2 linked regions of the Homo sapiens genome follow. The protein of the gene in region 1 binds, or shares a complex with, the protein of each later gene. Each region holds a gene or a part of one and is shown in the gene's direction. Other genes may lie near its edges.

Region 1 (7,046 bases):
GCGGGAGAAGGAAAGGAAGACTTATTTGGGGAAAATTCAGACTGCAGAAGTGGCCTGCCTGAAAAGTCACAGCAACAGGCAAAAATAAAATAACCTAGGAAAAAAATCTCAGGCTGCACCTGCAGACAGAGAAGCAGACAGGGTCCAGCACAGAGGCCCTTTGTTCTTTGTATTAATAGCAAGCTCCCAGGAAAAAGTTTCCTCCTCTTTTCAGGCATATACACGTTGGGAGCCTGCACAGGAAGGAGGGGATCTTACCTAAAACAAACCCACAGTTATACAAACAAGAGAAGCAGCTCTTTGTGCTTGTCTAGAGACATACCCACAGCTGCGTAAGATAAGGGGAGTTGCACAGACACCTTTACCGATAAGTCACTCAAACTGTTAGAGAGATGAGAGGAGTTTCTTTTCTTTTCTTTTTTTTTGAGACGGAGTCTCACTCTTGTCACTCACGCTGGAGTGCAGTGGCGTGATCTTGGCTCACTGCAAGCTCCGCCCTCCAGGTCCACGCCATTCACCTGCTGAGGTGGGTGGATCGCCGGAGCTCAGGAGTTTGAGACTAGCCTGGGCAACATGGCAAAACCCCATGTCTACCAAAAATACAAAAAATTAGCCAGGTGTGGTGGCATGCACCTGTAGTCCTAAGTAGTTTGAAGGCTGAGGTGGGAGGATCACTTGAGCCCGGGGTCGAGGATGCAGTGAGCTGAGATTGTGCCACTGCACTCCAGCCTGGGTGAGAGAGGGAGACCCTGTCTCAAAAATACATAAATAAATATAGTAGGACGAACTAAACTGATATTTTGATATTATCCATATTTAATTTAAAAACTCACAAAAACAGTGCCATGTTTCTTTCTGCCACATGATACAGTAGGATATGTTAACTCTTTCTGCTTCCTTTTCTGAAAATATTTCTCTGAGCAGCCTGTAGGTCCTCCTTAATTTATTTTATGTAATGGTAAAACTGATGTAAAATCCACTTTGACTTGCAGCTCTGCTCTTATCAAACTCATGTGACACTGGGTTCCAGTGTCAGTACAATATGATGCCATTGAGCTAAAGTTCATCTCAACACAAGTGTTGAATCACGTAATAGTTAGGATTTTATCTACTAGCAACAACAAGATTTAGACTTGTAGGAATTAATTTCCATCTCTCCAAAAATGGCCATCTACTCTTATGTTGTTTGGGTAGATCATTATTTGTCAATCAGTTCCTTTGCATCCATTCATCACATAGTCTATGTCTAAAATGCCCGTTGCTTTTTCAACATTAGAACGAATATTGGATGTCATCAGAAGTTAAAGGTTTCTCAGGGAAAATGGTTTTTAAATCAGAGAGGTTAGGAGAAATCAAATATGGATTTCAAATAAATTATAGTTTTAGTAAATAAAATGGTTTCACTTGGCTGCCGTGTTCTGGTTATAAATGTGTATTTGAAATATATATGTGTGTATATTTGTGTATTTAAAATATATATGTGTATATTTGTGTTTGAGATATATATGTATATTTGAAATATATATAAGTTCTGAAGCAGTCTTATTTACAAAAAAAGAGTGTTTTTTCCTCTATCAGTTTTTGTCACAACCTATACATGATCCTGAACAACTCAGATGCAGTCAGCTCATCCTTTTCTAGATATCTCATGGTCCTGCAGAGATCATTAAACAGTTTTGGAAAACTAGCATATATGTTTCTACTTTATTGTAACTCTTTTCTACATTCTCATCCTCAAATGTATTTAGTGAGTACCTACTATAGGCCAACCACTTCCCTAAGTCCTGGCGACACAGCTTTGATCAAAACAGGCAAAACTTCTGCCTTTGGGAAATTATTCTGTAAGAGAGATATGCATTCTTAATTTTTAAAGTTTTTTGAGACAGTCTTGCTCTGTTGCCCAGGCTGGAGTGCAGTGGCATGATCTCGGCTCACTGCAACCTACACCTCCCAGGTTCAAGCGATTCTCTTGCCTCAGTCTCCTGAGTAGCTGGGAGTACAGGTGCACGCCATCACGCCCGGCTAATTTTTGTATTTTTAGTAGAGATGGGGTTTCGCCAAGTTGACCAGGCTGGTCTTGAACTCCTGACCTCATGTGATCCACCCGTCTCAGCCTCCCAGAGGACTGGGATTACAGGCGTGAGCCACCACGCCCGGCCATTTAAAAATTTTTTAAACCAATTTTTGTGAAGTTCGGTTTACAAACAATAAAATGTACACATTGTAAGTATATACTTCAGTGAAATTTTACAAATGTATTCACCCACACAGGCACTACCTTAATCGAAAACAGAATATTTACATCACTTCAAATCAAGCTCTATCCAACTTAGTCTCTTCTTGAGCCCTGAGCAGCCACTAATCTGTCTTCTGTCACTATAGATGTCTTTTAAGAGCCTGGGGTCTCACTTGGGGAATCATACTCTTGCATTTGATTTCTTACTCTGTCGCCCAGGTTGGAGTGCAATGGCACCATCTCGGGTCACAGCAACCTCTGCCTCCTGAGTTCAAGGGATTCCCCTGTCTCAGCCTCCCAAGTGGCTGGGATTACAGGCGCACGCCACCATGCCTGGCTAATTTTTTTGTATTTTTAGTAGAGACAGGATTTCACCATATTGGTCAGGCTAGTCTCCAACCCGACCTCTCCACTGCCAGCCTCCCAAAGTGTTGGGATTACACGCATGAGCTACCAGCTACCAAGCTCAGCCTGATTTCTTTTACTCAATATATTTTTGAAATTCATTCATGTTGTATGTCAAGTAGTTTATCCCTGTTTATTGATAATTACATTCATTACATTGTATGGATATGCCACAAATTGTTTTTATTCAACAGTTGATGGACATTTGGGTTGTCTGTAGTTTTTGATGATTAAAAACAAAGCTGGGCCAGGCACGGTGGCTCATACCTGTAATCCCAGCACTCTGGGAGGCTGAGGTGGGCAGATCACGAGGTCAGGAGTTTGAGATCAGCCTGACCAACATGGTGAAACCCCATCTCTACTAAAAATACAAAAAACAGCCTGGTGTGGGGGCAGGCGCCTGTAATCCCAGCTACTCGGGAGACTGAGGCACGAGAATTGCTTGAACCTGAAAGGCAGAGGTTGCAATGAGCCGAGATCAGGTCACTGCACTCTAGCAGGGGCGACAAGAGTGACACTCTGTCTCAAACAAAAACAAAAACAAAGCAAAACAAAGCTGGTATGAACATTAACGTACAAGCCTTTGTATGAATATGTTTTTGTTCCTAAGTAAATTCGTAGATTACTGGATCGAATGATAAGTATATGATTATAAGGAGAGATTGTTAAGTTTTCCAAAGTGGTTGTACCATTTTGCATTACCACCACCAACATAACAGAGGTCCAGTTGCTCTGCATCCTTGCCAACATTTGGTATTATCTTTTCCATCTTTTAATTTTGGGCCATCCTAAAGAACAGGTGGTGATAAAGATGTGCTTCTTACCTGCGCCCGTCTATTTATGTAACCCCATTTAAAAACTGATCATTTTATTAATAAATTAAAAAAATCTAAAACATATAAGAATCTGAAATTAAATGTCTGGCTTGACTTTGCAGATATTTTGAATCTATGTTTCCTCACGAAACTCCCAGGCGCTGTATAGGAAACATAAATCCGTTGTCAGGCAGCAGTAGCACGCTGTTGCTCTCGGAGCTTGGCTGCTCGTTCGTGCTCGCAACCACTAAGGTCTACGCAAACCTCCACGGTTTCCTTCCGCCTTCGCGTCACCTTTCTAAGAAATTCCCAGAGGGCAGCGCAGACGGGGCGGGCTCTGAGACTCCGGGCTCCGCCTCTTTCCGGGAACCGCCCACTACCCAGGACTCCGACAGAGGGTGAAAAAAGATAACTTCCGGTCTCGCGATCGTCTCTAATCTCGCGAGAAGAGAAGGCGGCCGCCATCGGCCGAACGGAGGCGGTGGCGAGGGAGGGGGTGTGGCCGGGGAGCGCGAAGTCCCCGGGAGTAAGGGAGAGGGGGCGGGGTCGCGCGTCCCGGGCATACGCATGCGTGCACGCTGCCGGTCGGGCTGGGCTGAGAGGGGAGGGGGCGGCGGCGGCCGAGGCGGCGTCGTTATTTCCGTGGTCCGGACAGTGCGTGGCGGCGCGGGTGACCACGGGAGAAGTAGGTAGGGACCGCCCCTGCGTAGCCATTGAAACCCTCTCGCTCGTGTGTCCGAGAGCCGCAGCCCCCCGCGCGTGTGGCAGATCCTGGGGACCCCAGGTCACCCTGCGGCCCCGGCCCTCCCGCTGCGCGTCAGGTAGGAGCGGCGGGCTCCCCAGTGCCCGCTGTCGGCCGAGGCCCCACTCTTGCCCGGTGTTGCCGAGGCGACGACCCGGCGCCGGACGTGCCCGCCCTCCCGCGCGGCGACAGCTCTGTCCTTGCTTATGCGCCCAGTGGGACCGGGGCTGGGCTGGGCTGACCCGGGCAGGGCGGAAGGGAAGCGTGTGCCCGCCTCAGGTGTGCCTCGGCCCTAGGCCCGGCCGGCGGGACCCTGCGGTGCCTGCCGGCTCCTCATTGCTCCCGGCGAGGTTCTGCCTGGGTCCGGGCCGGCTCTGGCCCGGGAGAGGTCCCAGCGAGCTCTGGCCAGATGAAGGGCTACCTTGATTGACTTCGGTAGCTGCCGCATGGGGTCCTGGGCTGCGAGAGGGGACCCTGAATAGTGCCTTGGTCTTTTGTGGCTATTATTGAAAGTTGGAAGCTCTGGAGTTGTTCTTTTCGGGCCAGAGGTGAGATGGTTTGTGATTTTTCTTCTTAAACAGTAGGAAGGCAAAATGTTTATGGGCCCTGGTAGGTGGTGGGCTAATAGTAAGCAGCAGGAGTGTTAATTGACGTGCGATTTGATTGCATTAAGGTTATTCTTTGCAGTACTGTCCTTAGACTCAGAAGAGTTCTGCTTTAAAGAGTTTAGTTAAGACTTCATCCTATGCTGAAACAAACACCCATTTCTGCAAATACTCTTGCCCTGAAAGCTACATCCTCTCTCTTACATCAGTATTAATTTTACAGGCATAATGGTTATGAAAGCTTCTGTAGATGATGACGATTCAGGATGGGAGCTCAGTATGCCAGAAAAAATGGAGAAAAGCAATACAAACTGGGTGGACATTACCCAAGATTTTGAAGAAGCTTGTCGAGGTGAGTCTGATTTTTGGATTAGAAGTTCAGCATCTGGAAGGGGTAGAATGACGATTGTGCTTTCTAAACTTACCTCATTAGATGAAATCAACAGGTAAATGTGGTTTGTTGAGTTTGTTAGCCACACTTATTCTGTATCCTCTAATTTTAACTTTAAAGCAAATGTATATTTGATACAGCATTAAATACAGATGTTGAGGCAGTATTTTAAAATTGAATTTTTCTTGCTTTAACAGGTTAGAGAGAGCAGTAATTTCTAACTGTGGAAAACACTTTGTTAATCTAAAAGATAATAGTATTTTTGTATGTTTGAGGTTTCAGTATGATCAGATCACATCATTCCTTGTTTAAGATTGTCCAGTGGCTTCCTGTTGCAGGTAGAATAAAATCCACCCTCCTTCCCTATGGGTCTATAAAATCTGGTCCCTGCCTGCCACTCAGGTTTCATTTATGTGCCACTGTCCCCGCCAGGCTTATTACATTCCAGTCACAGGTCTTTTTTATCTCTTCGTAATACACACCAAGGTGGTTCTCCCAGGTGTTTGCATTTTTTGTTTTCTTTCTTTTAAATTGCTTTGCCCCTCGCTTTCACACAATTCTTCTTAAGTGTTAACCTCCCTGGTGAGGACCTCAAAACAACCACTCATTCTCTCCTCTGCAATTCCACCTCAGTTGAATCACTTTTTATTTTCTTCATACAGCTTATCTTTTTCAGAAGCCATAATTGTCAATTATTTCTTGTTTATTTTCAGTCTCACTCACTGGAATATAAGCTCCGTGGGGGCAGAGATAATTTCTGTAACCCTAGTATACAGAACAGTTCCTGGCACATAGTAAATTCAATAAATAGGAGTAAATGATTGGAGAAATGAACATGCTTGTTGCTTGAGGGGAAAGAGTCTAGGGAGAGACTGAAGATAAGAGAAAGGAACAAATTAACTAGAGTGAGAGCTTGAACGTTAAAGAGAGGATGAGATCAAGGAGATAGTAGAGAAATTGGGGAAAAGCACAGGGACACACTGAGACAGGAAGGACTGAAGTTAGGATGAAGATAAAAGTATATTTCTAAGTGACAGAGGAGGACTGGTGAAGGAATTCACTCCTGATGGCTTGTATTGTCTCAAGCAGCTTAGGTCTTTTGATGATAGGTAGGGTGTGTTTGGATAGTGCTCTGAAGGGGAGGAGTAAAGACTTGGGGCACCTGCAGGTGGAAAGGGAGCCAGCTGTGTATAAGCAAAATGATAAATCATGTGCCATCCTTTGTTTTGAAATCACTTTTTATAGCCTCAGTGAGACAGTGGAAAGGACGTAAGACTGGGAGTTGGGTGACTGCCTATGTATGTCTATCTAAGGAAGAGAGAAAGAAATGTCAAGTTACAGTGTAGTTTTTGTGCTCAGAGATCTTAGACTATTAAGTGGATTATACCTGTCATCTTGCACTGATTTTAAGTAATCTCTATTAGGGGGCTGTCATTATTAACCTAAATAGGGAAGGTTTTTGAAGGTTATATGGCTTGGGTTGGGCCTTAAGGAGAGATCAAGTTTTTGCAAAGGGAGGTGATAGAGTTATTCTAGACTGAGATGAACTATGTGAGTCAGAGTTTGGTGAGGTTTTTATGTTAGGGGAACAGTAAATAATTTTACTTGGCCACAAAACAATTTTAAATGCTGGGAATTATAGAGCGTCTTTAGTGCCATTGATGTTTTTTGTTTGTTTTTGTTTTTTTGGTTTGAGCTTGTTTTATAGGCAGTAGGAGTAATGGATTTGAGCATAAGATTGAAAGTTTGTTCCCCTTGATGATCAGTACAGTGGCTTGGACCAAGTAGCTTCTCAGTAAGTAATGTAGTAAGCTTTATAGTCAGATATGAGCTGGAGTCCTAACTCTGTCAC
Region 2 (6,462 bases), on another chromosome or scaffold:
CTGCCTCAGCCTCCCAAGTAGCTGGGATTATAGGTGTGTGCCACCACGCCCGGCTAATTTTTTGGATTTTTAGTAGAAACAGGCTTTTGCCAGGTTGGCCAGGCTGGTCTTGAACTCCTGACCTCAGGTGATCCCCATGCCTCGGCCTCCCAAAGTTCTGGGATTACAGGCGTGAGTCACTGCACCTGGCCAGAGACCCTCTATGGAATAACTTTTGGTTTTGGATATTGGGGAAGCAAGGAAAGTGAATCCTATGGATAGAGACTATAGCACAGGAACCAGACATCCTATTTCTTGGTCCTTCCTTGCCTACTAGGACACAACATCCCCCCCACTAGGTATAGACGGATGAGTTCACTTAACATTGGAGTTCATTCAAAATTTATTGAGCTGCAACTGTGTGCTCAGCAATGAGAATATAGCAGTGAGCAAGATGTGAACAAGATCTCTGCCCTCGTGAGCTTACAATCTAGCAGCGCAGCCAGCCTATTACAGCCATAATTTTACAATTGTAATAAAAACTCTGGAAAATGCATGGTGCTAACTGATTTATCAGAAAGTCTTGACCCACCAAGAAATCAGAAAAGACCTCCCTGAGGAAGGAACATTTAGGATCAGCTAGGTGGAAAGTGAAAGGAAGAGTGTTGCAGGCAGAGAGGACAGTGTGTGAGGGTCTGAGGCAAGACATGTAATGAACTGAAAGCCAGTGTGTCTAGGCCATAGAGAACAAAGAGGGGTGTTGCGAGATGAGCCTGATTTATACAAGATCTTTGAATTTAGGACTTTATTCCAAAAGCAGTTGGAAGCCACTGAAGAAGCTAAGGAAAGTTCGATGTTTAGGTTTGTTTTTCATAGCTGACTCTCATTGCAGCATGGAAGTCAGAAGTGGAAATGGGAGAACAGGTTAGGAAGTTTCCGTAGCAGTTTAGACAAGAGGTGATGGTAACTTGGAGAAAAGAAGATAGGTTCCAGAGATATTTAGGAGACAGATTACACTTGATGAGTGACTGGATGTGTGAGGAAAGGGATGTGTTTCTAGCAAGAGACATTGAAGTAGGAGTCTCTGGAAGAGGGACAGGTTTTGGCAGAATGGGGACATCCTGTAGGCACAGGACAGGCCCTGAGGCTTGCACTAGAGGAACAGCATAGCTTTCATTCTCAAATAGTTCAGGGTTTAATTGAGCAAACAAGGTACACATAATTGCAGAGTTGATTAAAGATCAAAATGATCGATTTAGATAATTCATGGACTCCTGCATTCCATGGGGTTAGATTTAAACCCTCCATCTCACAGTAAATTCAGATACTGCCGAAGCCAACAGCAATGTTTCCACCTTTGTTCATGCCTCCCAAAGCCCCTCAGAAAATGCCTATATAGCCCACCAGTATCTCACAGGGGCCACCTTCTCCTGTGCTGGGCCCTGGTGTCCCCTGCCAGAAGACACACTAAACTCTTCCTGATTTGTTTTTTGCTTGCTGCTGCCAGGAAGTTCAACTGTCTGTCATTCTCAAATCTCCCCTCCTTAAGTTAAAGGAGACCAAATCTAGCCATTACCCCCAATAGTGGTTCTCTTTTGGTCACCAGGAGAGTTTTCTGACTTAGTTAGCATCTCTGTTTACATTACCCCTGTCGAGCTCCCTCTTTTGGAGTCACCGTCTTGCAACCCTGTCTTCCTCATCTTCTCCAAGTGGCAAACTGCCTCCTTTTTCTCCCTCGCCAAAGTGTCACTAATTTGCCGGCCTTTTCCCCACTCTAGTTTTCCTTCAAGTTAGTAAATACCCACCTCTTTGCCCCAAAAGGTCAGGAGAGAAATCTGGGGTATGGGATTAACAAAGAAGTAGCCCCAATAGCTATTGCTTAACTGACACTTAGCCTTCCTTGCCTCCTCTTCGCCACAGGAGAACTCTGCAAACTCCCTTCCAGAGACAATAACTGCAAACTATACAATAGGACCACAATTTCCTATTGTGCAGGGATCCTAGGACAAAGCCACATCCCAAATACTTGCTGAGAGCAGTGGCTACAAATGTTAACATGAGATTAGACATTGAGATGGTCCCTTTATATTGAGAGAACATGGACTTTGGAGTTGGGCAGACTTGAATTTGCATTCTGGCTCTAGTGGTTACTACCTAGTGTGGCTTTGAGCTATTAAACTTTCCAAAGTTTCGAAGGACTTATCTGTAACATAGTAATGGTAATCCACCTTATGGGGTAGTTGTCTTGAAGAGGCTATTTGGGAGGCTGAGGCAAGAGGATCACTTGAGGCCAGGAGGTTGAAACCAGCCTGGGCAACACAGCGAGACCCTGTGTCTACAAAAAATTAAAAAATTAGGCATTGTGGCGTGCACCTGAAGTCCCAGCTACTCAAGGCAGAGATGGGAGGATCACTTGTGCCCAGGAGCTCCAGGCTGCAGTGAGCCATGATTTTGCCACTGCACTCCAGACTGGGTGACAGAGCAAGACCCCTTCTCTTTGTTGGGGGCAAAAAAAAAAAAGAGGGTATATGAAGTACCTAGTATAATATCTAGCCTGAATTGCCTATAATGACGCACTTCCTTTCTTTCCCTTGGGTTTCAGCTGCCAAACACTCTTCTACAAGTAAGATAAGCCAGCTTTGTATGGTCAATGATAAACATTTCCTATTTCTTTGTAAATCCCATCTTCCTGCAGACATCTCATTTCCATCATTGCCAAAAAAGTCCTTCCATCCCTCACCCCTGTAGAACTACTCTCTCTTAACTATCAAACAGTTCTGCCTGAACTCTGACTATCCTCTTCTACATCTCCCTAAACCAAGGTACTTGATCTTCTTGTATCATTCCCAAAGATTAATTCACTAATTTTCTCAGAGCAAACTGTAATGAAGGCAGGGAATAGGGCCTTTACACTTCAGAAGGGCACAGGCTAGCTCCTGGAGAGGAGTGGAGATCTGGGTCCAGGCACCCCTCGGCCCCACCACTTTTCCTCAAGGCACAGAAAAAGCCAAACTCGAAATACGTCTTGAGTCTACACGAGTGTACATCTCCTTGCCTACAACTCCGTGAGATCATCATTGAAGTACAGAAGTATTGCAGGTGTGTGAAGTGTACCGTCCATACTGAGATAGTCAAATTCTTCCTCCTCATCCCGGATCCCATTCTCTTCCAGGGTAAAATCCATGTTCAGGTTCTTCCCTTCATATTTCCACGTGTAGCTGGCAGCATGTGAGTTATAGGGGAGATAGCGGTGTAGGATTTCCCATATGGACTCCAGAACCCCCACCTGGAGAACACAGAAGCACCCCACCCCCAGAATTCTGGATGGAGTATACATATACACACGCTGGGATCAAAGTGCCTCCCTTGGCAGATAGCAGCTTCAGGTACTCTACGGCCCCGGGAAAAAAAAGCTGAAACTCCAGCATGCAATGAGCAGACCCTAAAGTCCTACAGATCTTAATGGCAGCCACTTCTAACTACCGGATGGCCATAAAGGGTCAACTGTCCCCTCACTATATCCATGCAACAGAGTAGATTAAAAAGAAAGTCCAATTGCTGTCCAAAACGGCGTGTAAGAGCTTCGAAGGACCACCATCACTAAGATACATGAACTGCTGTTCCCAGGCTTATAAAGGAGTCTCTTGTCCCCCTGTGACCCAGACACTCCTAGAATTCCCAACCCTGGGGACCTAGGTGCTGTGCTTTCCTCAGTTGCCTCAATGTAAAGGACAGAAAATACACTCCCACCGGTTATGGAAAAAATGTTGCCCTGAAGATCGGCCTGGAGATTTGCTGGGATTCCCCATTCCTTCTAACCTGCTCCTTGTCACCAGTTCTCACCTCCAGTGTGTGCTCCTGCGACGTGAGCGTGTTAATGATGCGGATGCTCCGGGTCTTGGCAGACAGCCGCCCCACCTCATAATACGACCCCTGCCACCAGGGCTTCCCAAAATCGTTGGCCCAGTCCGAACAGGGCAGCTGAGGCGGAACGTGCACAAAGCGGCCCCGCGGGGTGCAGTACCTCAGGCAGCCGGTCAGCGGATCTATGTGCTTGCGGATCTTTAAAGGAGGGTTTGGGGCGAGGGTGTCAGAGCAGCCATTAGGCTCTGGCTAGCCTCCGCCTTTCCTTCCCATCCCCGCTCTCCATTTCCTCTACCCACAATCCCAGGTTCCAGCATAACTCACGTCTCTGGTCTTTGGATCAAACCAGTGGCTGATATCCTGGCCTGCAACTTCCACGATGGGTTTCAGCAGCAGGTTCCCTTGAAAAGAGCAGCACAGCCACTGTCAATGCCAGCCCTTCGAGAACCAGGCAAACGCGCGCGTGCACACACACACACTCCGGCCCCGGCCCAACGTGTGGCCCTTACCCTTGTATTCCTGTGCCAATGACGTTAGGTCGTACACGCGTCCCAGGTAAGATACCCAGAGGTCTTCGGGCCTGTTATGTTGGGCCACCTCCGCCGGCGTGAAATAGCGACGCTGAAAATACTCCAAGTCTGGCCCAGCCACCAGGCCCCGGCGCGGCATGGCTCTTGCTCTGTCGGTCACTGGATCTCTTGGTTACTCCTTTGCTCCTCAGCACGTACTCACTACTACTACGACCTCCGTCGCGTCCGGGAGCCGAGGGGAGAGCGTTTATCCGCTGACATGGAAACCATTGTCCTTTTCCGGCCACCGTCCACTGAGATAAATATCAGGGGCGGGGTTTGGACTGCACGTGTTCACGGGAAACGTAGTATGAGTCCCGCGTGGGGCATATAAGGATCAAGTAATTGAGTTGCGCCGCTTTCAGGAGTTGCGGGGTGGGGCAGAGAACGAATACGCTCCGTTTTAATTCAGTGGCCTGGGCTACATGGGATATTTAGGACAGACTATCTCTCTGAGACAGAAAAACAAGGGAGGAGGCAGTATGAAAGAATGTATTCTCGCTAAATTCCAGTTTCTAAAGGATGTGTAAGAAACCAGAGGTAAAGGTCTCGCGATATCTTAAGACATCCGGCGTAGTACGCTTCAGTGAGCCACAGCGCTAGAGAAGTAGGAGAAGCTCGCGAGATCTGTGCCGTTGCCGAGGAGACTAGGAGGGGGAGGAGAGGGGATCTCGCGAAAGGAAAGAGGTCGGGAGCGCTCGCGAGATCTCGGACCACCCAACCTGAAAGGTGCTTAGGAAGTTGAAAGGCCCAGAGGAGGCCTCCGGGCAAATGGCCGGAGCTGGACCGACCATGCTGCTACGAGAAGAGAATGGCTGTTGCAGTCGGCGTCAGAGCAGCTCCAGTGCTGGGGTTAGCACGGGCTCTGGTTCTGGGACTGAGGGGCAGTCAAGCAGCAAGATGGAGGGGGTGGGGAACTGCAGCTCCCGGCAGCCTCTGGGCTTTGTGTGAGTGCCCCGCGGGCTGCCGGGAGCTGTGGTTCCGCGGGCGGGCAGCCTGGGCTGCGCGGTCTGAGCGCTTGTTACACCCCGCGCAGGATTCGGACGGAGAGCGCGAGGACTCGGCGGCTGAGCGCGCCCGACAGCAGCTAGAGGCGCTGCTCAACAAGACTATGCGCATTCGCATGACAGATGGACGGACACTGGTCGGCTGCTTCCTCTGCACTGACCGTGACTGCAATGTCATCCTGGGCTCGGCGCAGGAGTTCCTCAAGCCGTCGGGTCAGTGCCCGGGGAATGCACACCCGCCTGGTAATGTGGCGGAACCTTACGCAAGGCATTTCCCCTTAAGGGCCTGGCTGCAACCCTTGTTTTCTGGGGCTCGTTTTCGTGGCTCAGAGGGGCGGGACTGATTCTGGCCTACTTTCCTGATGCTCTGATCCTTCTTTCCAGATTCCTTCTCTGCCGGGGAGCCCCGTGTGCTGGGCCTGGCCATGGTACCCGGACACCACATCGTTTCCATTGAGGTGCAGAGGGAGAGTCTGACCGGGCCTCCGTATCTCTGACCACGATGGCGCTTACCTTTCAGACTTCATTAAACTTATGACCGAATGGGCCTGTGTCTGTGTGTAGCTGGGATGCCGGTGCAGGATAGCACACCCCATCCCTAGAGGAAAGGGCTCATCTGAAGTCGGGAGCACCCTCAACCCTCCTCTCCCAACCAAGATGTCCAGGGGTGCCAAAGGTTCTCTCAAGTTCAGGGGTAGAGATGGGGGGCAGGGCTGAATGACGGACCAACAGGCCCCAGGGTGGGCCCCTGCATCTTCCCTCCCACGGCTGCTGCTCCAGAATTGTGGCGGGAGGGGGTGTCATCCTGCTCCGGAAGGCCCATTGTTTCCCACCCCGGCCTGGCAACACCGAGTTCCTCTAAGCTGGGGTCAGAGAACGGGCTCAGGTCCCCAAGGGGAGCAGCGGCAGGCGGCCGAGGCTGGGCCCCTCCACTCTATTGAGGGGGAGGTGCCTGGGGTCAGGAACAGATCTCTGAGGTCTGGCCAGGAAGAACGGACAAAAGCGATAAGGCCAGGGGGCTCAAGGATGCTCCTCTCTGCTCA

The links.
Region 2: the proteins of NAA35 (region 1) and NAA38 are in contact, whole or in part, in a cryo-EM structure (PDB 7MX2), measured with the Homo sapiens proteins. Residues at the interface, in NP_001308810.1 of Homo sapiens: Val30, Asp31, Ile32, Thr33, Phe36, Ala39, Cys40, Leu43, Leu45, Glu47, Leu48, Leu49, His50, Asp51, Phe54, Glu58, Ala59, Ala62, Ile63, Glu64, Met65, Met66, Ala72, Gly73, Met74, Gln306, Arg307, Leu309, Pro310, Pro311; in NP_001307854.1 of Homo sapiens: Ala41 (codon at 5,488), Arg42 (codon at 5,491), Leu45 (codon at 5,500), Glu46 (codon at 5,503), Leu48 (codon at 5,509), Leu49 (codon at 5,512), Arg61 (codon at 5,548), Phe67 (codon at 5,566), Leu68 (codon at 5,569), Cys69 (codon at 5,572), Thr70 (codon at 5,575), Asp71 (codon at 5,578), Arg72 (codon at 5,581), Cys74 (codon at 5,587), Ile77 (codon at 5,596), Arg97 (codon at 5,827), Val98 (codon at 5,830), Leu99 (codon at 5,833), Gly100 (codon at 5,836), Leu101 (codon at 5,839), Ala102 (codon at 5,842), Met103 (codon at 5,845), Val104 (codon at 5,848), Pro105 (codon at 5,851), His108 (codon at 5,860), Ser111 (codon at 5,869), Ile112 (codon at 5,872), Glu113 (codon at 5,875), Val114 (codon at 5,878).

Annotation. Positions count from the first base shown.
Region 1 is NC_000009.12:85,937,129-85,944,174, forward strand, and holds the start of NAA35 (N-alpha-acetyltransferase 35, NatC auxiliary subunit), read left to right. Parts: upstream 1-4,017; 5' UTR 4,018-4,145; exon of another isoform or gene 4,146-4,277; intron 4,278-4,475; exon of another isoform or gene 4,476-4,746; intron 4,747-5,026; 5' UTR 5,027-5,031; coding exon 5,032-5,155; intron 5,156-7,046. UniProt on the Homo sapiens protein: Auxillary component of the N-terminal acetyltransferase C (NatC) complex which catalyzes acetylation of N-terminal methionine residues. N-terminal acetylation protects proteins from ubiquitination and degradation by the N-end rule pathway.
Region 2 is NC_000017.11:7,856,185-7,862,646, reverse strand, and holds NAA38 (N-alpha-acetyltransferase 38, NatC auxiliary subunit), read left to right. Parts: upstream 1-5,087; 5' UTR 5,088-5,183; coding exon 5,184-5,264; coding exon of another isoform or gene 5,265-5,448; coding exon 5,449-5,632; coding exon of another isoform or gene 5,633-5,662; intron 5,663-5,803; coding exon 5,804-5,916; 3' UTR 5,917-5,962; downstream 5,963-6,462. Other genes in the region: CYB5D1 (cytochrome b5 domain-containing protein 1), read right to left, coding at 3,035-3,265, 3,823-4,041, 4,168-4,244, 4,353-4,512.